2 separate regions of the Homo sapiens genome follow, and region 1 is linked to region 2. A link means that fine-mapping ties the variant in region 2 to the expression of a gene that starts in the linked region. Tissue or cell type: prefrontal cortex. Region 2 holds a variant in brackets; the other region holds the start of a gene. All regions are shown on one strand. Distances are from middle to middle.

What was found. PIP is the estimated chance that this variant, and not a neighbour inherited with it, causes the effect.
Region 1: it holds the start of STX16, and the variant in region 2 is fine-mapped to the expression of STX16 in prefrontal cortex (ROSMAP, PIP 0.90).

The regions. Positions count from the first base shown.
Region 1 is chr20:58,646,735-58,657,056 of GRCh38, forward strand. It overlaps STX16 (syntaxin 16), which reads left to right and starts at 4,549. Exons shown (of 9, transcript NM_001001433.3): 1 at 4,549-5,404. The coding sequence starts at 5,273. STX16-NPEPL1 (STX16-NPEPL1 readthrough (NMD candidate)) reads left to right here and starts at 4,519. Exons shown (of 23, transcript NR_037945.1): 1 at 4,519-5,404. LOC107985410 (a long non-coding RNA gene) reads right to left here and starts at 2,901. Exons shown (of 3, transcript XR_005647058.2): 1 at 2,255-2,901. RefSeq lists silencers at 759-1,053, 3,452-3,811 and enhancers at 1,741-2,278, 5,308-5,577, 5,415-5,918.
Region 2 is chr20:58,673,241-58,683,562 of GRCh38, forward strand. It overlaps STX16 (syntaxin 16), which reads left to right. Exons shown (of 9, transcript NM_001001433.3): 8 at 391-471; 9 at 2,947-6,286. The coding sequence ends at 3,051. It overlaps STX16-NPEPL1 (STX16-NPEPL1 readthrough (NMD candidate)), which reads left to right. Exons shown (of 23, transcript NR_037945.1): 8 at 391-471. Among named protein-coding and RNA genes, the nearest start is that of NPEPL1, 14 kb to the right of the region's middle. RefSeq lists enhancers at 2,587-3,112, 3,113-3,637. The variant C/CAAA (reference allele first, on the strand shown) is at 5,399.

The sequences.
Region 1 (10,322 bases), 27 kb before region 2:
TGACAACCAAGAAAAGTCCATCATTAGTTAATATTAGTGATGCCCAGCTTGGTTCAACTTAGAGCACCTGTTTTCTGCTGAGCGTCATTTGAGATCGGCTGGCATGGGCCAGAGGGAGCTGTTTCAGGGCCTCAATCAGGCAGTGACATGATCAGATTTATGCTTTGGAAAGGTCACTGTGGCTGCAGGATGAGGAGGGAAGAGACGGGTGGTTGTTAGCAGGCTGCTGGGAAAATGTACACGATGAGAACCAGAATTTGGGTAGAGACAGTGGAGATGCAAATTCCCTGAAGGCAAGAGTTTTGCTGTTTCATTCTTTCAGCAGTGCCTGGCAAGAGATAGGCACAGCCACTGGTAGATTTTTAGAAATGCCTACTGTATTGAATTGTCTGGTATTAAAAGCTACGGGACTCCAGACAAAACAAAAGTGTTGCCTCTCTCCAGAGTCTCCCTTCTTGGGAGAGGCATCATAGCTGAAGACAGACCCAGATAGGGAGTTTTCTGTTGTTGGAAATACTCAAGGTTTTGAGGAACTATTTGGGGACACAGAACACACAACTCCTGTTACCCGAACCTGGCCCGAATCTGTCTGTCAGATCTGTGCAGACGAGACATATGTTAGGCCTGGGGGCTTTTGCTGCTTGATAAGCAAACAACCATCTGTCTTTCTATAGGTGGGAGAAAGACCAATGTTAAAAGGTGTCTTTGAGATGGTTTAGCCCCCTCTTCCACATGAGTGTGCACTGCAGACACATCTGGATTCCCAAGGTCCAGAACAAGAAGCTCGGAAACGTGCTTAGATTTCCAAGTGTTCAGTTCTCAATACCATGCCATTCTCTTTGGAGTTTATGATGCCTTCCAGGGAGAGCAGAGCCCACGTGAGCTTTCCAACAGTAAGACTACTGCTGTAATAAATCATATTGCCCATTTGTGGCGCACTTACTCTATGCTGAGGTTGTATAAGGGCTTACATGAGCCCTATCTCATTTAAATTGTTTTCACCAAAGGGTGTGTGTCCCACTGCTGACCTGTTGAGCTAACCATCCCCTCTCAGTACTTGAAAACCTGCACCTGCCCAAGCCATGGCCTGGCTTCAATGGGGCTTCCTCCTGCACTGAATGAGATGACAAGAAAACAATGAAACACTTGTCCCCAAAAGTGACTTATTGGATTCGTTGGCAGAATGTTAGAAAGTGGGTATGAAGCCCAAGAAACAGGACACGGAGCCTCACCAAGCCCGAGGAGTATTACCGAATCCTAGCCCAGGCCAAGAATGAGTCACAATGAAAGCTTTTAAAATGTAAAACCATCAACCTAGATTTCAATTCCAAGGAAACACATACTTGGCCATGGGGGAATGCTTTAAAAAAAAAAAAAAATCAAGCTTAAGTCACTTGACAGGAAAATAAAACAGCCAAGGAACATTCAAATATAATGATTTACATCCTTCCCCAACTCCCTTCCAGTGTGGGTCAGGGCGAACATGGACCATGGACGTGACTGGAGCCAGGGGTGCATGCCCTCTCTGGGCTCCCTCTTGGTTAACACTATTTCAGGCACACAATCCCATACCTAAACACAGCCTGCTTAGAGCTGCACCGTGCTGCCTTTGGGGCCTGGTCAGAGCTGCACGGTGCTGCCTTTGGGGCCTGGTCAGAGCTGCACGGTGCTGCCTTTGGGGCCTGGTCAGAGCTGCACGGTGCTGCCTTTGGGGCCTGGTCAGAGCTGCACGGTGCTGCCTTTGGGGCCTGGTCAGAGCTGCACGGTGCTGCCTTTGGGGCCTGGTCAGAGCTGCACGGTGCTGCCTTTGGGGCCTGGTCAGAGCTGCACCGTGCTGCCTTTGGGGCCTGGTCAGAGCTGCACGGTGCTGCCTTTGGGGCCTGGTCAGAGCTGCACGGTGCTGCCTTTGGGCTGCTATGCCAACTTCTTGGATTTTCCTGACCTCCCCGCTGTTAGGCTCTTGGGTTGCTTGGGGTGGCTGTTTTGGGAATACCAGGATTTTTCTTCCATTATTTGTGTGCAAGCAGTGTTCATTTCGCTCAAAGAAATGGAAGCTTGATTGATCTCCTAAATGTAAGAATGAGATTGTCCTGTAATAAATATTTAAGACTGACCAGGAAAGGCGACCACCATCTGCTGAAACACAAGACCAGGAATTACTTTGCTAAGCTTCCTGAACGGAGGGAATGAATGAATAACCATCCTATATAATATTTGCTCAGCACCTGGTAGTTTACAAAGAGTTTTCACTTACCTTATTTGATCTTCACAATAACCCCAGAGAAGTAGACAGGGCGCGGATTACGAGGATTACGAAAAACCCACATTTTTTTCTTTTTTTCTTAACAGATAAGGGCTCTAAAGGCTTAAAGTCACTCGAGGGAGGTCAGAGAGTTTGGGGACTAAATCTCGAGTCTCTCATTAATTCATGCACATATTTAAAAAATATTTATCCGGAGCCTGTTCCAAGCCAGATGAGATGGCAGTGGGTACAAAGATGAATAAAACACTGTCCCTGCGTAGGAAGAAGATCACGTTCTAGCCTGGGGGAGAGCGCCAGGAAAAGTAAACAGGTCCCCCCCTGCTTTGTGAGGTGATGAGTGCTGGGGAGATAGGAAGAGAGTGGGGACCATGTTTCTAATCTGATTCTCCTACCGACGACCAGCTCAGTTGTTATTTACAAATACCTGTCCCCTAAAGGGGGGAGCGGGGTTGGGGGGGCTTGGCCGTGCTGCTGGGGTCAGAGCTCGCAGGGGGGTTCTGCCGCAGTGTGGGGACAAACTCTCCCTTATTGGGCAAATATTTCCCGGGGCGCTACGCTAAGCACACGGGCTCCCCGAATTTCCCTCCCCAGGGCCTCTCTGTCTTTGGATGGCCTGTCAGCAAGTCCCTGCAGCCTCCAGCCCGGCCCGCGCGGCGACCCAGTCCCCTGTCGCCCGAATCTTCCACCGCTGCGAAGCGTCCCCGGGCGAGCGCCCTGCTCTCCGCGCTGCGCGGAAGCCAGAGCCGGTCCTCACAGTGAACTCGCCCAGCCCTGCTCGCGGCTCTCTCGATTTTATGTGGGTTTCGTTGGATGCATTTTGTTATTTGCCTCAATGGATGTTTCACATTAATTTTTAGTTGCACAACGAACGCGCGGGAACATTCTCCGTGAGAGAAAAAGCACGGGTGGGGGGCGGTTACCGGTGCTTCCCCCGGTCGCCTGGGGGTCCCGCACGCGCCCCGCGGGTGCCGCTGTCTGGCTGGGGTCCCTGGGTGAGCCGCGGGCACCGGCTTCGCGTCTCCCCGGGCGCGACTCCGCTTTGCAAGCGCTCAGCACACGGGAAACCCTCGGAAAACACACACGTGTGTAAAGTTTGTTCCACGCAGAAACAAAGGACGCGTGGGGGCCGCTTCTGGGGCCTCGGTCCTTTGTTGGAACCCCGCACCGCAGCCCGGCCCGCAGCCTCGCCCCGCAAGGGGAAGCCGGCCCTGCACAGGCCCGGGGCCCGGAAGGCGCCGCCGCACAGCTCTGCGCCCCCGACCCGCTCCGGCCGCGCGCTGGGCCAGGCCCTTGGCCTCAAGCCTCCCGGGCGGCTCCGGGCCGGACCCGGGTCTCCGTCGCGGGACGCCAGCCTGTTTGTGGGTGCCGTGCTCGGGCCCGGGCGGCCCCTGCCCGACGCGGCCCCACGGAGCCCCTGCACGAACCCCGCCGACCTGGCCCGGGGCGGCAAGTCGAGGTGCTTAGGGCGCCCTGGGCCCGGCCAACCGTGGAAAACCCGGCCCGGGGCACGGGGGGGCGCGGGGGTCGCAGGGCCAGGGCCCAGGCAGGGAACAGAGATTTTTTTCGCGGGGAGGGGGGTGGGAGGTGTCAAAGTTTTCGGGGAACTTTTCCACTTGAGATTCCACGACCCTGCAGTGCCCCCTACAGAAAGCGGCAGCTGGGGAGGGCGGGCGCCCCCGACGACCCCCGACTGCCAGCGGCGGCGCGGCCAGGCTGCCTGGAGTTCTTGTTCCTTTTTTTTTTTTTTTTTTCCTTTTATTTCCTCGTGGTTGTTTGTCGGATACATCTTTTTCCAGAGTGGGAAAAAAAAAAAAAAAAGCGAGCGCCGCCGCCTGCAGTAGAGCGTGCTCGGCCTGCAGAGGCAGTCGTCTCCAACTTTTCCTCTCCCGCTCCAACTCCCCGCGCCCAAAACTTCAGTTCTTGGGGAGCCCAAATTTGCCTGCCGCGCAACTTCCACTCTAATTCAGCGACCAAGGGCCCTGGCAGCGGTTTGCAGCCTGGGGGCCACGCTCCCCAGGCTCAGGCCTGCTCGTTGGCCTGCTCCTAGTGCCTGGACCCAGTTGGGGGAGGCGAAACAGGGCGCCCGAGGAGCACCCCGGGAGAGGGCGGAGCACTCCCGTGCCCCGGGGCAGGAGTGCAGGGAGCTCCCGCGCCCGGAACGTTGCGAGCAAGGCTTGCGAGCGTCGCAGGGGGGCACTCGCGAGGGACGGACAGGAAGAGGGCCAGGGGGGAACGCCAGAACCCGGGACCACAGCACGGAAACGGTCCGGGGCTGAGCTGCAGTCAGATCCGGGGATGGAGGGAGCCGGAGAAGAGGAGTGAGAAGGCCGGGGAGGCAGGCCCTGCTGTCTTCCTGCAGGCCGGCAGCCTGCTGGCAGTGGAGGACCAGGCCGTCCAGGAAAGGAAGGGGTCAGGAGGTCGGGCAGGGCCTCAGCAGGTTCAGACAAGTCCCCAGAAGGGAGCTGCAGGCGCCCTCGAGTCCAGGCCCCAAGCCTGGCTCCGGTTGTCCAAAGAGGGCCTAGGCCAGGCCTCTGGTGCGGAAACTGAGTCACAGCCAGACCTCAGGGCACGGCCTAGACGCTTACGAGCCAAAGTTAGGGGTAGAGAGCAGAGACCTCCGGGGGGTCTCAGGGAGTAGGGGGCTTCAGGGCCTCCCAGTCTAGAGCCGGATTGGCGAGTTAGACGCTTGTAGATCCAAGGTTGGATTGGGGTGGGGTCTCTGGGACGTTGGATCGCTACGCAAGGATTGGGGGGATTCAAGTGCTTAGAGATCGAAGTCTGCCCTGGGTAGGGGGAGTCAGACAATTGGAAAGCCTAGGTAGTTATTTGGGGAGGGGTCTCTACGCCTTGGCGAAGCGCACAGCTGCATCTTTTTGGCTTGAGGCCTGAGGCCTTGTCGAGAAGCTTCCGTGAAAGGGTGGGCCAGCCGGGCCACGAGAAAGAAAGTGAATAAATCAGGAATATAAGTGGGCGGGGGGCCCCTGAGAGGGGGGTCGCAAAGGGTGAGACATGGCCACCAGGCGTTTAACCGACGCTTTCTTGTTGTTGCGGAATAATTCCATCCAAAACCGGCAGCTGTTAGCCGAGCAAGTGAGTAGTCACATCACCTCCAGCCCTCTGCATTCACGTAGCATTGCTGCGGTGAGTCTCCTGGCGGCCTCTCCGACACACGGACCGTGTGCACTGCGGCTCTGCCTGTTTGTCTGTCTCTGTCTGTCTCTCTGTTTAAAAAGAGAAGATAAGAATAATAAGACTAAGAATAATAAGATCTCTTGGCTAGAGTCAGGGGGCATCTGTAGCCCTGGATGAGGAAGAAGCGGTGCTGTGAGGCCGCAGCTCCACCTCTGCCCGGTCTTCTCCTCACTTCCGCAGCACCCCCCCCCCCGCACCCCCCGCCTTGGCGTCACTGCGCTACAGGCCGCCTGTAATTTACATATGTTTTAACGCTAACATTGGGAAGCATTGGGCCTTTCTGAAGCCTTTTTGTTTCGTTTTGTTTGAAGCTCCCCTCCCCCCAGTAATGAGCCTCAGTTTGGTCCTAAGGGCTGGGTCGCCGGATCGTAGACCCAAATCCTTGCAAAATGAACGACTCCCTCCCCTCAAAGAGGAGGGAGTTGTGTTGTTGTTTTGTTTTGTTTTGTTTTTCCGCCCGTTTTCTTTTAACGGCCCCGCAGCCCTCTGTGTGGCCTTGTTCCCTGTGAATAATTGCCTCACTGTTCTTCCTGGGGGCTTGCGTTTGTGAGACTCAAGGTGCTAGCCTCTTCACTTTCCATTTCCCAGACAGGAAATTAAGCTTTCCTCTCCATTCGAACTTTTTAAAAAAAGCCTGAGGAGGTATATGTGAAAATTAACCCCGTAAAATAGCACTTTTTTTTTTTAATTAACCACAACCTTTAGTTAGCCTAGCAGTAGCGTTTTTTAAGGGTGGTCCTGGAAAAATTACTGTTTGGGGTTTGTTTTTAATGGGGGCTACTTTTCCCTTTCTGAGCCTCAGTTTACTGCTCTGTTAAATAAGGGGCGAGTCTGGATGATCTATACCAGACAGTGATCGTTAGCTCTGTAATGTCTTCAATTGAAAAGTGAAGTTATGAAACTGGCTGTAGTTCAGGCTACCTGCTGTAGGCAGACTAGGTTGGAATAGAAGCAGCGTTGGAACAGGCGGGAAATAGCCATCCCAGGACCACATTCTTGGGGGTTATACTTGATATTAGGCAATTTTGGAACATTCATTTCACCTCTTAGGGACTGTATTGCCAGTTTATTTTTTTCTTTATGGCTTTATCTAAATGCTTCAGGAAAATTTTGCCATATGTCATGATTATCATGTCTACAAAGACAGTTTCTCCTTTTTGTAAGTCACAGGTGGAGAATGTCTTTGGCCATATAACTGATAGAAAAGTCATTTTAAGCCGTGTGAGCGGTTTCAGGAATAAAAGCATGTAAACTCAGGTCAAACAGCCTAGAACTAGGGACAGAGTGTGTGTGAGATTTCAGTTAATTAAGAAGTTGAAGGGTTTTTTTTACATTTATAAACGGAAAGGAATTACATTATATTGAAATAAATGTAAAGATGTCTGGTAGCATAGAAACAGGCTAATTCTAGCGCTAATTTTGAAGAAGAAATAATCCAAGAAATCGAGTAGAAATTGGATGAATTCAATTCCTTAATGGAACTTCAGTAATGTTAAATAAGAACTGCATGTTCCTTAAATGACTTGATTTTGTGCTGCCTCAAAAACTACTGAAACTCATATTAAGATTTCTAAGGTATCAGTTTTAATTGAAAAACATATTGTTTATTTTTCAATTTTTAATCATTAAGGTTCAAAATACCCTGAACCTTTGGGTAACATGAGGGTTTTTTTTTTTTTCCCGATTAAGTCAGACAGTTTAAAAACCTAGTATCTGAGACGGGAAGCTTTTTAAAAGTGCATCTCTGAATCAGACCACTTTAGAAAATTATTTTCTAAGTTAGGCAATTTTAAAAAATATTTAAGCTAAGCAGAATAATTAAAAATGGATAGTTAACGTATACAGTTTGGAAAAATAGATATGTCAGGGTATATACAGATACATTTAGCTAACTCACAGTTTTTTGAAAATAGATTTCTAAACCCAACTAAAAATACATTTCTAAGAACGTTAAAAAATGTTTTCTAAATGTCATACCATTGAAAATGTTAATATTTATATTAGTCTGACCATTTAAAATCTTTCTCAGATCATTGAAAGCAGTCATATCATTTAAAATATCCTTATAGTCAATCCATACTATCTCAAAAATAGGTTTTGCAGTCTAACAAACATAGTTTGCCTGAATTCAAATTTAAAAATAAAACACAGATTTATATATTTTAATTGTGTTAAAAAATGGCATGTCATAAATTTCTGAAGTATTTAGGGTTGAAGTGTTACATCTTCACTTTGCTTACAGGTGATTCGTAACAAAATCTATTCTGCACACAGTACGGCGAAATGCTAACAAGACTAAATAGAGGTTATGATTTTTTCAACTTTTCTGGAAGTTGGAAAAGCTTTATAAACATTTTGAAGCAAAAGCCATGTTTAACACAATTTGTAAAATCTATTGAGTAACTCTTAGCAATGCTTTTCACTGCATATCTAGCTCACAAAAAATTTAAAGCCTTGTTTCTGACTTGTAAATTTCAAAGCCATGTAGCAAACCAAACAAAATCGTATCTGTCAAATTTTGAATATGGACTAGGTATTAGGTGACATTAAGGAATTAATTATAATACATTACATTTGCTAATTTTATTAGAGATGCCTACTGAAATGTTTAGTGGTGAAATGTCAAGGCATCTTACCTAAGTCCTTAAACCCCTCCAAAAATAGAGGAAGCAAATAAGGCAAATTGTTACTCATTGTTAAGTCTAGTGATGAGTATGTGTGCGACATTTTACCATTTTGTAGGCTTTTCTGCATGTTTGAAAATTTTTAAATAGAAACTTAAAGTAAGTATATTTGTTATAGTAAAGTAAAACAGTTAAAAAGAGGCAATTTGTAAATACATGTCTAACACTCAGGCAATTTGAAAGGAAGAAATTAAACCTAAGTTTAACTTAATTTAAAAAATAATAACCTGGAATTTTAAGTTTCCAATTAGAAGAAAAAGCTGTAGACTTTGATCTTGATGCATTTGATACCAACTAAAAATACACCTAAAATAACAGACTTTTTAAAAAAAAAATTGTAATCCTGAATTTTGACATCTTATTTCAGGAAAAAGCTGCAGAAATTAATTGCAGAGTAGTGTGTATCATACACCTCAAAGCAAAGCACACCTAAAGCCATGCCATTCAAAAAATTTAAACATGCATTTTTTGCATCCTAGTTTGAGGGAAAAAACTAGAATTTGGTTGTTGTAGTGGGGTTATTGTGTGTCCCTGTGCGTGCATACAGGGTTTTGCAGCATTCAGGCAAATATGTCAAATAAACAGGAATTTAAGGAGGATACGCAGTGACCAGATAAACACAAAGCCTCAAGGGCCAGAAGGAACCTAAAGGTCATTTGGCCTAATGTCCCCATTTGTGATAACCCCTCATGCCTATCTTATTTGGCCATGGTGTATGACAATGATGGAAAATGCCAGCAGCTCCATGATTTTTACCACTAAAAAGTCTTTGCCTGTTAATCCCAACTATTTGTGTCCTGGGGTCCTGCTTTTAGTTCTGTTCCTTCGGGTCTTCCTTCTGTCTGGTAACCCTGCAGCCTTGTTACCCAGAATTCTTTCCAGGCCTAGCATTCCCGGCTCAGAGTGGTTATGCTTTTTTCCTATAAATGATGTTTAGTTTTTCTGTATCCTTTTTAGATTTCAGCATCCAGAACTGAGCAAAATTCTACTTTTTTGTGTTCTTAGTTGTATTAAAGTTAGTAAAACTAATTGTAAAAAAACAGACAGGTTTGACTTTATGCACTCCTAACAAAATACAGTCGTATTTCCCATGCATTTTACTTTGGCCTCAGTTTTGAGTGCCCCATCACGTTCATGCCTCAGGGCAGCATGAAATAAAGGAAAGAGCACTGAGAATTGAATCTGAGAATTGAGGCCTAAGTCCTGTTCTGCTGCAGGCTCAGAGTGTGTCCTTAGGCAAGCCTTTAATCTTTTCGGACATTTTTTGCCTCATTTGTAAACTGAGGGGTTTGGGTTAGGTGATTTCCAGCAGCCCTATCGATTCAACAGTATTTTCTCAAGTTCTGTTTTAATACATTGTTTCTCCTGACTTTAGCTTTAATTTGAAAAGGAGAAATTCATAGTCAACAGTGTTGTAGCTGTCAGTCCAAGGTTACTGACAGAAATCCTTAGAAGTAGCCCCAGTACTGTGCAAAAGTAACTTTCACATTATTATGCCAGCCAAGTGCAGGTTTTAAGGTAGCAACTCATTCAAGCAGCTTGGCTTTAGGAAACTGAAATGGATTTATGAAGCTAAACAATTATTCAAAACAAATTGTAAAGTCATAAAGAAATGAATGAAAGGTAGATATTGAGATGCTCTTCTGATCTGATGAAATTCTGTATGGATTTGTGTGGTTTCCTTCGATCTCCGGGAATGGATCTAATATAGGGGTTGGAGCTACTTTGTTAGTGTTTACTGCCTAATCTATACTCTGCTTTAAAATAATGCATAATCTATAATTGGAAGCTAGCGTTAATTGGTCTTAGATTAGTTTGAAACATAAGCACATTATTTTTAATAAAATGTGTGCTTTAGGAAAAAGGAAATTAAGGATTAACTATGGTTATAAGAAACCTGAGGTCCTTATTCAGGCTTGACTACAATATTAGCTAAGATTTATGGAGAGTTTACTTTGTGCCTGGCTCTGGGCTAAGCCCTTTCCGTGTGTAAGCTCAGCTCATCTTCACAGTGCTCTATCAAATAAGTACTATTGTTTTTCTCAGATACAGATAAGGAAACAGATTTTAGAGGAGGTAGGAAACTGGCCCAGTGTCACCCACCTGATGGCTGGGGGCTGTGATTGGAACTCTGGCAAATCTGGCTTCAGAGCCCCGTGCTCACCTCCTGGGCCACTCTGGTG
Region 2 (10,322 bases):
GCTTACTTGAATCCAAGTACGTAGGCAGCAAATGGGCGCAGAGCTTCTGTGCTGCTCAGAGCCTCTGTCCACTGGACCATAGATTTCTTAGGGCCCCAGGAAGTCCGAATATGGCATTTCTATGGCAGCTGAAACCAATAAGGAAACCTCAGTCTGTCAGTACTTCTTTCTCGTGAGCTAGATGTGATGGCACTAACCAGCATTCTGCCATCGAGCTCCTGACACTGCTTGAGGGTGAACTCCAGAGCCCTCCGTGTGTACCTGCAGCACACAGGGAAGGAAAACATCATCTTATGGATGATGATGTCTGTAATTTGCATATCTCATTTTTGACGTTCAGTTTTCCCAGTTGCTATTGTTGATTGTCTGTAACTGTCATTTATTACCTAGGGTACAGTCCTTGACAGAATTGACTATAACGTTGAACAGTCCTGTATCAAAACTGAAGATGGTTTGAAACAGCTTCACAAGGTAATATGTCTTTCAAGACTTGGGAATCTTAGGAACTATTTTCAAATAATCAAGAATTGGTAAGAGGGTTCTTTTCCACCATAACGATCTTCAGCATTCTTGTGTTGTCCACTCTCAATACAGTAGTGTAAAAAGGGATTCATCATTTCATTTAAAGCCAATTGTGGGGGCTGTTGCCGTTTTATTGCAGTTAATGATTCCAGGTGTATCTCACACTTAAATCCAAAATTGCTAAGAACTCCTTTTTGTGACAGTAAATTCTAAAGAGATTGGAGTTCTTTCTTTTAGAAAATATTTCATTCTTTTCTAATGCTTCTTGTTTTAGGAAATCAATTGGGCATTTGCTAAAATATGTGTTGAAAATCTGTCTGCTTGTTGCCGTTGACTTGGGCCTCTCTTGTGATACATTCCTGATGAATTGCTGATGGAGAATCATTCTGCAGAAGATAAAAATCTAATCTTCTCTTTAATTACCACAGCATATCTGTATTACCTTGAGAAAAGAGAAGTTTGTTGAAGTGAGAGTAGTAATTCTTTTATTCTGTGCTAATAAGGTAGCTGTTTCAGGGATGTTTTTATGATATTCTCTTTTAAAAAAATAGATGGAAAGCATCTTAGGAATCTTATCGGTTATAAGAAACATGCATAAACGGCTGAGACTCTCATATATAATTGGTTACGTATTTTCTTTAAAAGGAATATAACAATACTTCACAAATTAAATAATATCCATTTCCTTGTATCTTTGAGACCCAGTGGAGTTTCTAGCCATATAATGAGTGTTTTGCCAATTCACTGTTGGACTACTCTACCATTTTTCTGAAATCAGTCGCTTCCTATACCAGAGATCGCCCCATTTAATAGCAGTATTGGGTTTACAAAAAGTCAGCCCTTGCACTAGTCTAACCAGAAGCCCTGAGCTGTCTTTTCAGGGGGCTTGTTGCCATGTGTAGGTGGATATGAGACTCCAGCCTGTGGTGGGAAGAGAAGTCTGACCTTGTCTATGCAGGGTTTTTTTAAGCATTTAGATTAATTTGGTTGCCAAGCCCTGTCTATTAAAAGTGAAAACTAACTTAAGTTTCTCACTCTGTAATACCCAGGTTTTGATGTGCTGCTGAATTATGCATTGGTTTTGAAGTTTCTTAAATAAAAACTAGTGAAATATGTTTTGTAATATAACACAGATAAAAGGAAAAGCTTTCTCTGCGGGAGTGAGCAAATCTAGTGGGAACTAAAAATTTTGTTTTAGGTTCTACTTTATAAATCATTTTGAGAGGTTTTACAGTATATTATTTAGTATTGGCTTCCCTGGTGTTCTGGGTTACTTATTAGAAAAGTCAGCGTGCTCCATCTTCCCTCCAGCCACAAGGCTGTAGGCAGCACGCGCGTGCTCGGCAGTCGGCTAGTCTAAGGGTGATTGAGCGTCGGGAGCTGCTCCCCATGACCGGACTCTCGGTGCTGTCCCCGTGCCTGATGTTTCCTCCTGGTGGATGAGGGGCTCCTCCAGGTGGGCGGGCAGGCTCACTTAGGAAACAAGCCCACCGCGGGGGATGGAGCAGGAGAGATTGCCATTCTCGCCAGGGCTGCCTTCCCGCTGTCTCCTCCTCCCTCCTGTGCCATAGCAAGGTCTGGAAGAGGCAGCGCATGCTCTCCCTGGACGTGCCTCCCGGCGCCCTCTGAACTCTGCTGTCCTCTGGCTCTCCTTTCTCAGTGCTCTGCGTCTTTCGCCAGCCAGGTGGGGCCCTTTGGCATTTCTCTAGCAGGCATGATGGAGTTCCCGCTCCTGCCGAGCTTCCAGGATGCGGTGTTAAGGTGAAGAGATGTGCAGGGTGCAGCCTCGTCCCCAGATTGAGCTTGGAGGGCTCCTTTGCTGTATCGTTAGCGGCACTGGGAGGACGCGCCTCAGAGGGATCTTTCTGCATATGACATCCATGGGGCACACGTGTCTGTTTTTATTTCAAAGGATGAGTTTTTGTTTCCAAATTTAGGGGAGGTCGAAATGGGGCCTCTTCCGGGTGTCTGTTGCCTACCTGCCAGGTACGGTCCTCCAGCCCGTTGTTTCCTTCCGCGGTGAAGGAACTGTGCATTCGCTCCAGGAACACGGACCGGGAACAGGCGACCCGTGCTGCAGGGGCACTTGCCACGGCCTGCAGGAGGAAAAGCCGGGAGAAGCAGGCCCAGCTGCACCCGGAAGCATGAGCTTTCACTTCCCTGTCAGGCTTTGTCTTAGTAGTAGGTTTCCAACAAATCCATTTCCACGTCCAGGGTAAATAAGCAGCACCAGGATCATGGGGCTCTTCCACTCCTGGTGATTGAATTCCGTGGGATTGATTGGAGGGATTACAATCATGTAGCCTGTAGCAGAGACCTCAGTCACTGTGCAGAGAGATCTGGAAGCCTCATTCTGGAAACGAGTGGGACTTGATTTGGGATTTTGGGGAAAATGACGGCCTTTTTTCCCTCCTCTTTTTGTAGGCAGAACAGTATCAAAAGAAGAATCGGAAGATGCTTGTGATTTTAATATTATTTGTCATCATCATTGTGCTCATTGTTGTCCTCGTTGGCGTGAAGTCTCGATAAGTGGCATTGGGTTTTCGTGTGTGCCGCGCGTGTGGATCTCCCGGGTGTGAGGGGCTTGGCCTGCGCCCCGCCAGCTGCCCGCAGAGGTGCAGCCTCGAGGAATCTGAGGGCGTCGGGGCAGCGAACCTTTGCATCCACGGACTCCTCCTTCCCTAGTCCTGCTCAAGCGGTCCGGGGAATGGGTTTTTGTTTTTCCTTCATTGTTGAGAATTTAAGGACCTTTGATACTGCTGCACAATAGAGATTGAGTTCTGGGATCAGTTATAATATATATTTTTTTTAGAAAGAGAAAATGAGCTGAGAGTTTACAGGCACTGCAGAAGCTGTTCAGTATTATATGTGTATATGCTATTTTTTTAGCAGCCATGTCTGAGCAGAATGTTAACATAATTTTTGGAAAAATTTTCTTTAAACCATCTGGTTTTTAAGAAATTTGGTACCAAAAATTGATGAGTAGAGGCAAAAATGCCCCTTCATCTTTCTCTATATATTTTCCAGTTGAAAACAAACTAAGAAGTCCTTTAAGAATTTATAATCCGTTCCCCATTAACTTAATTTAGCTTTTCCATCACTGTTAATGATCAGAGTAACAAAGTGTGAAAAATAAGAAACCATCATTGATGTTAATTAACACATTTAGATGGGCCAGTTAAAACAGCTTCATAAGTTTTAAATTAATTGTAAATGGAATATTCCTCATTTAAAATTTTTGCACTGCATTTTCTACTGTAAACCAAAAGAGGTTACTAAGCAAAACCACCTAAATTTAAGTTGGTGATTTAAATGAATCTCACATTAAAAGAAAGCTTGACAGTGTTATGAAAGCCACCAGACTCAGCCAGTGTGTCCCCATGGGTATCCCCAGCCATCCTTGCTCAATCCATTACTTATATACTAACTACATAATGACCTGTTCAAACCAGACTCTATTTAATGAACTGTGAATTTACACAGAGGCCATTTTAAATGGGTCACCCCATTTAGGATTAGTGGATCTCAAATTATTAACCAAACATCACTCCATTTCAAAGTAAAATATTCCACCAGCGATTTGATTTATTGGCTCTTCCATTGCCACTGAGCAATGCCCAGGAAGCAGGCACATTGCCAAGGACTGGGGGCATCTTGACTAGGAAGCTCCTCGTTTGTGTGAGCGTGGGTCAGACCGCCAAAGTAGGACTTCATCGTTTACCTACCTATTATCAATATGGTGCTTGAATATATTCCTATAACTGTAGAACAGTGTGGAAAGTGATGGTAACTTTGAAGTTGTTCATGTTTTATTGGCTTTGTTTTAATTGACACTAGTAGAGTTTTAATGGTCTTTGTGTAAATTTTAATGGCTTTTCCATTGTTTTTGCTTCTCTTAAAAAGTTTAAGAAGAATATGACCTCATTAAATGTGCTGTTTTATTTGGACCAGTCACACAAAATGTCTCTCTAGAGTTGACTTTAAAGTTGTTTACAGAAATTTAAACTCAATTCCAGAGATTGAAGTTGTCCAAACAGCTCATGGGCTTAGTGTCCAAACCCCTGCCCAGCCTTCCCTTTCCAAGTTGGTGCCACCTCCAGGTAGCCATTGGTGGTTTTCCTATTACTGATGTGGCTGTGGAATGATAAGGTCCTAGAGGGGCCCTGGCATTTCAGGAAGCGGACCTGGTATTCCCTGACAAACATTGCTTAGGAAAGAGGGCCGGAGAATAAGAAGCCAGCACCTCATCAGTCAGCCCTGCAATGTGAGACTTCCGTAGCTGTTGAGAGTCACTGCAGGTGTTCTTTCATCCCATCTGATTTTAACCCATGGTTGAGACGTTCCAAGTTAGATCTGCTGCTCTTAGGTGTGGGGCTGTCCACATTAGGGAACTTGCCTCAAAAACAGTCCACAGTGGCAATACCGGACTTCTGTTCAAGCTTTTTAAAGTGCTGAGCCTTACAAACCCCTGAAGGAAAGTGACCCTTTAAGAGAGGATCATCTTTTTTTATATTTATTTTCACCAAATAGGGTGATGAGGGTTGGTTTTTGTTCCCTCAACCCATTTGGGTAAAATAACGGATCTGATTAGAAACTGTTTTAAGGAGGGGCTGGGCTCGGTGGCTCACGCCTGTAATCCCAGACTTTGAGAGGCCAAGGCGGTCACGAGGTCAGGAGTTCGAGACCAGCCTAGCCAACATGGTGAAACCCCGTCTCTACAAAAAATACAAAAATTAGCCGGGTGGGACACGCCTGTAATCCCAGCTACTCAAGAGGCTGAGGCAGGAGAATAGCTTGAACCCGGGAGGCAGAGGTTGCAGTGAGCCGAGATCACACCACTGCACTCCAGCCTGGGTGACAGAGCGAGGCTCCGTCT[C/CAAA]AAAAAAAAAAAAAAAAAATTGTTTTAGCGCTGGGTTTCCCAAGGTGGGAGAGACAGACCCAGCCTGGAGCTGGCCCCTGGCCTGTGTGCTGACTTCTTGGGGTCCTCAAACCACTGTATTTTTCTGTTGAGCCTGTACTTGGGGAGAGATCAGTAGCATTTGAGGAAGTAAGAGAAAAGAATCATGGTACCTCAGGGTTTCTTTCCCTTTACTCGCTGGCAGCCATTGTCTGTGGGCACCTCATGTTTTTCCACACTCTACTGGGCCGTGGAGGTAACGATCACCCAGGCCAGTCTCCTCTGCCTGGGATGCGCCCTCTGAGAGGAGGCCTAGCAGGGCAGGCTCCCTCTGGGCATCCCTGGATGCAGCCTCTGGACACATGCCTCCTTTAAAGTGTCCGGGTGCAGCTCAGGTTGAGTGGAGGTAGAAGGAGAAACAGACATGTTTACCACGCGTTTTCCAAAGCTCCTGATCTTTCCCAAGATTGTAACTGAAAACTGCTGTCTCTTGTTTTGTTCGTTTTGGGGGTGGTGGTGCTGGCTGGGCCATGCTTGTGAAGTGATGTGTGTCTCTGATTTAACGGATTCACTGTTTTCTCTGCTAATTGAGAGAGCGTTATTTACATTATTTATTTGTTTTGACACAAGTGCTTTCAGTGTTTTATCCTAGCTAATGGCTTCTTAAAGGTAATAAAACCCTTCCAACGTAATTGGTCAGATAAAACTTTTTTTCTTGTATGCTTAAATAAAGCAATTAGTGAAGCACTTCTATCCAAAATGACTTTTTTGTCCTTTTTTAAAACCAATTTACTGTTACTGGAAACTTTTTGTACAATAAAGCAATCACGCAGATTAAAGAACATCCTGCAATCCTAGTATTAATTTTAACAATGGGTTCATGTTTTCTTCCAGTGCATTTGTGTTAGGGGAGGGCTTGGCCAGTTTTGTGATCCTCTGGGCCCCTGACTCTGTTTTGTGCCTGAGGCCTTTGCCTCAGTGTCCGAAAGTAGATCTATCTAATGGATGCTTTCAAAGGGACAATCTATTTACTATCTGATATACAAAAAGAACAACTGCCTAAAAGGCAGATAAGTATTTTTCTTATGAAAATATATGCTTTATATACATACCAAGAAACATTTGGAAATCTCCAAATAAAACTGTGATGTGCCTTGTTGAGAAGCAATTCTTACACACAGGCTGTAAGAGACTTGACTTTCTAAATGATTTTGTTTCCTACTCTGTTACACCAAAAACTTGAGAGACAAGTGTCTGCCAGTTTAACTCAAAGCCAAGACTATGTTTCCCCTTGATTGTGCCTGTCCTGGGGTCCTCCGAGGAGGACCTTTGTCCTGAAACTTGACTTTGATGCATTTGTTTTGCTGGTGGGAGATGTGGACCTGAGTGATGGTAGGGGTATGTGGTTTCATCACCAGAACCTATACAAACAAAAAATAGCAGCTGTCATGCCAGGTCTCTTTGGCACCCTTGGCGTTTGGTCCTGAGGTGTTGCGGCGACTCAACAGCAGAACCCTTCAGAGCCTGTCAACAAACCACACAAAAGAAACAACCTCCTCCTCTTGCACTCTCACCGTGTTTTTTGTTAAGAAATTACATTTCCCCAACTCGCATGTTGGCCACTGGCTCTGTCCAAGAATCAAATCCACTCTCGAGGGAGAGACGTTTGCCATAGGGTTCAAGAATATTCTGACCGGCAATGCTATTTAATAACATTGAAGAAATCCTCCATCCCGAAGGGGACCACATAAAGGCGGCAACACCTCTTTGGTGACCTCTTGGGTTATGTTCTCAGCTGAGTCTTTGGTGGCCCAGTCTTGAACCAGCACTACAAGAGTATGCAGACGCAGTCTGCAGAAGCATTGCTGTCAGTGGAGAGCTGCAGGATGCCACCAATGACTTGGAGGCATGACTTGCCAAGAGGCCTGGAAGTGGGGAGCCACTGGGGTGTCCCTTTGAATGCTCACTTTGACAGCAGGTAAACAGGCTGGATATGGATTTCCTCTGTGAAATTTAGCAACCATCCTATAAGAAGTCTGATCCTGATCCAACGTTTGAGCAATCTAGAATCCTTCCTGGTCCGTCTGCCATAGTTACGTAGCCACAACAAAATTTACCTAGCCTAGCACCATTTCTATCTAAATCTAATAGGATAGCATGTCATTCTACATGGGGCCTTAATTGTGATCAGCATCCCTTACTCTAGTCAAGCCATGTGGGACCATGTGGAGAGATCTTTTCACAGAAGGGATGTCCCTAGTTGGGTGTAGAGAAGACAGCTCATCACAAAGACTTCCTGCTTCTCTGTGGTTCTAATTCATCGATTAGTTATGGTAAGTTTCCATTCCTTCTAAGATTTAGGTAGGCAGGCCTGGTTCATCCAACATGAACTACATTTCAGAACCTAGCACTGTGCATGCACATAAATGCATGCCTAGAATTGTATATCTTGGCGTATATTAGCTCTTAAAAACTAATTTTCTTGGCCGGGTGCAGTGGCTCATGCCTATAATCCCAGCACTTTGGGAGGCCAAGGCAGGTGGATCGCTTGAGGTCAGGAGTTTGAGACCAGCCTGGCCAACATAGTGAAACCCCGTCTCTACTAAAATATAAAAATTAGCTGGGTGTGGTGGCACACGCCTGTAAACCCAGCTACCAGGGAGGCTGAGGCAGGAGAATTGCTTGAACCCAGGAGGCAGAGGTTGCAGTAAGCCGAGATTGTGCCACTGCACTCTAGCCTGGGCAACAGAGCGAGACTCCGTCTAAAAAAAAAAAAAAGCCGGGCGTGGTGGCTCACACCTGTAATCCCAGCACTTTGGGAGGCCGAGGCAGGCAGATCACGAGGTCAGGAGATCAAGCCATCCTGGCTAATGCGGTGAAATCCCATCTCTACTAAAAATACAAAAAATTAGCAGGCCGTTATGGCAGGCACCTGTAGTCCCAGCTGCTCGGGAGGCTGAGGCAGGAGAATGGCGTGAACCCTGGAGGCGGAGCTTGCAGTGAGCCAAGATTGCACCACTGCACTCCAGCCTGGGCAACAGAGCAAGACTCCGTCTCAAAAAAAAAAAAAACACTAATTTTCTTGACCACCCAGATGCCACTTCTAACCTTGCTGCCTGATGGTTTTAATTCTGTTTTGAAAACAACCTCCTCCCAAGTGATGGGTATTAGAAGGAACTAATGAGAACCCTGGGTGCAAGCAGAGACTTTTAGCACGTATGAAAGTGCTTCTGATTTAGGACTCGGAGTTAGATGGTGGGTGTCAGCTGCGTGTGTCTTGTCCCCAACTCCATGCCACCCTCGGGCAGACGTCATGGTACCAGTCTATGGCCAGGCTTTCTTACTACACAAAGAGACATTCCATGGAGTCAAATGGCAGAGACTTGTGTACAATTATCTGGTCAGTTGAGGCAAAAGAAAATAATCATTTGTCCAATTGTCCAAATTAGCTCTGTGGATTGTCCTGAATGCTCGGGGTAACTGTGTGGTTCTCCACTTCAGTTCCGTAACCTGGCTAAGATGGACCATTTAAATGAGGCTCCATTCAACACAATGCACATTTAAATGAGGCTCAGTTGCAAGAGACCACTGGGCTTAGCGTTTTCAATTTGTCAACTATAATTCTATAATTGCTTTTAGCTAATCATCCAAATGATTACATGTTGTAATGGAGGCAGAAGACCCTCGTATGCATCATTTGGTCTCTTTTTCTCAGAGGAAGTGCTGAAGGATCAAATGTTTTGTGTGTCTCTGTGTGTGTGTGTGTGTGTGTGTGTCCGTGTTTTAACTTGGTGTTCTGACGCACAACACCATAATAGACCTCCATTTTCATCAACGGTGGGGGAATGAGAACAACGCCCCCCATCCCAACATCCCCCTTTTCCAGAGGGGGAAACTGAGACCCAAGTTTCCCTCTTGCCAAGGCCACAGGACTAGAACTAGAATCGTCAGTTTTCTGATTTCCAGATCAGGACTATTTCTGCTTATGCCATTTTAATTTTTCATTTCTTTCCATAAAATTAAATGACCTTCTTCAAGAAAGATTTAATGGTCAAGATGCGATTTGGTAAAAAGCTTCCTCAAGGATTTTTTTCTTATTACAAAGATGAGACTGGCTGAGGCTGAGAGATTTGCAAGCAGTGGTATGTCATTATCCCCAGCTCAGTTTTTTGTGTAATTGGTGTGAAGAGATTGCTGCTGATGAATCAGCCTGCTGCTCAACAGAAAATAATGATTCTTTTGTGACGTGAGTCAGTGTACGTACGTGTACGTTTGTGGTTGTTTATGAAAGGTATGTGTGTACATAAAATGCTTATCAAGATGGATAATGTCATTTTAAAGTGGTAAATAATAAAAAATAGTCCTGAGCAAAACTGATTTTACAATTGCCTGAGAATGCAGCACTTCATTTTAACACTATGCAATGGCTAGAAATTGATTTTTTTTTTTTAAATCCAATTAAGCCTCAAGGTTGGTTATCCATTTAAAAGGTCGGATGAGTTAAACAATGACAGTACCTTCAGTTCGTGCTAATAAATTTGCACAGAACTTCAGCACTTACATCGTGTGCCTCACAGAGGCATACATTTTGTATGTGCACAACACTGAACTACCAAAGTCCCAGCAGTGGTACAGATACACCAGCAGACCCTGGACCCCAACTGGGGGAGTCCCTGAGCTGACCGCCGGCCCTATCACCTCTTCCACTTAGATCCCCGAAGCACCCCCCACCCCAGAGTGCTGAGTCCTTCCATCTACCTGGCCCCCTTTTCTGTGGCCCCAAGAGCACTGGGAGATGAAAAGTTGCCTCTCATTTAAAAGGGGGGAAAAAGATGTATTCACTACTTGGTTTTGTGTGCTGCTGAGTTTATAATGTAACAAATAAATCCTGTTTTAAAAATAGTAC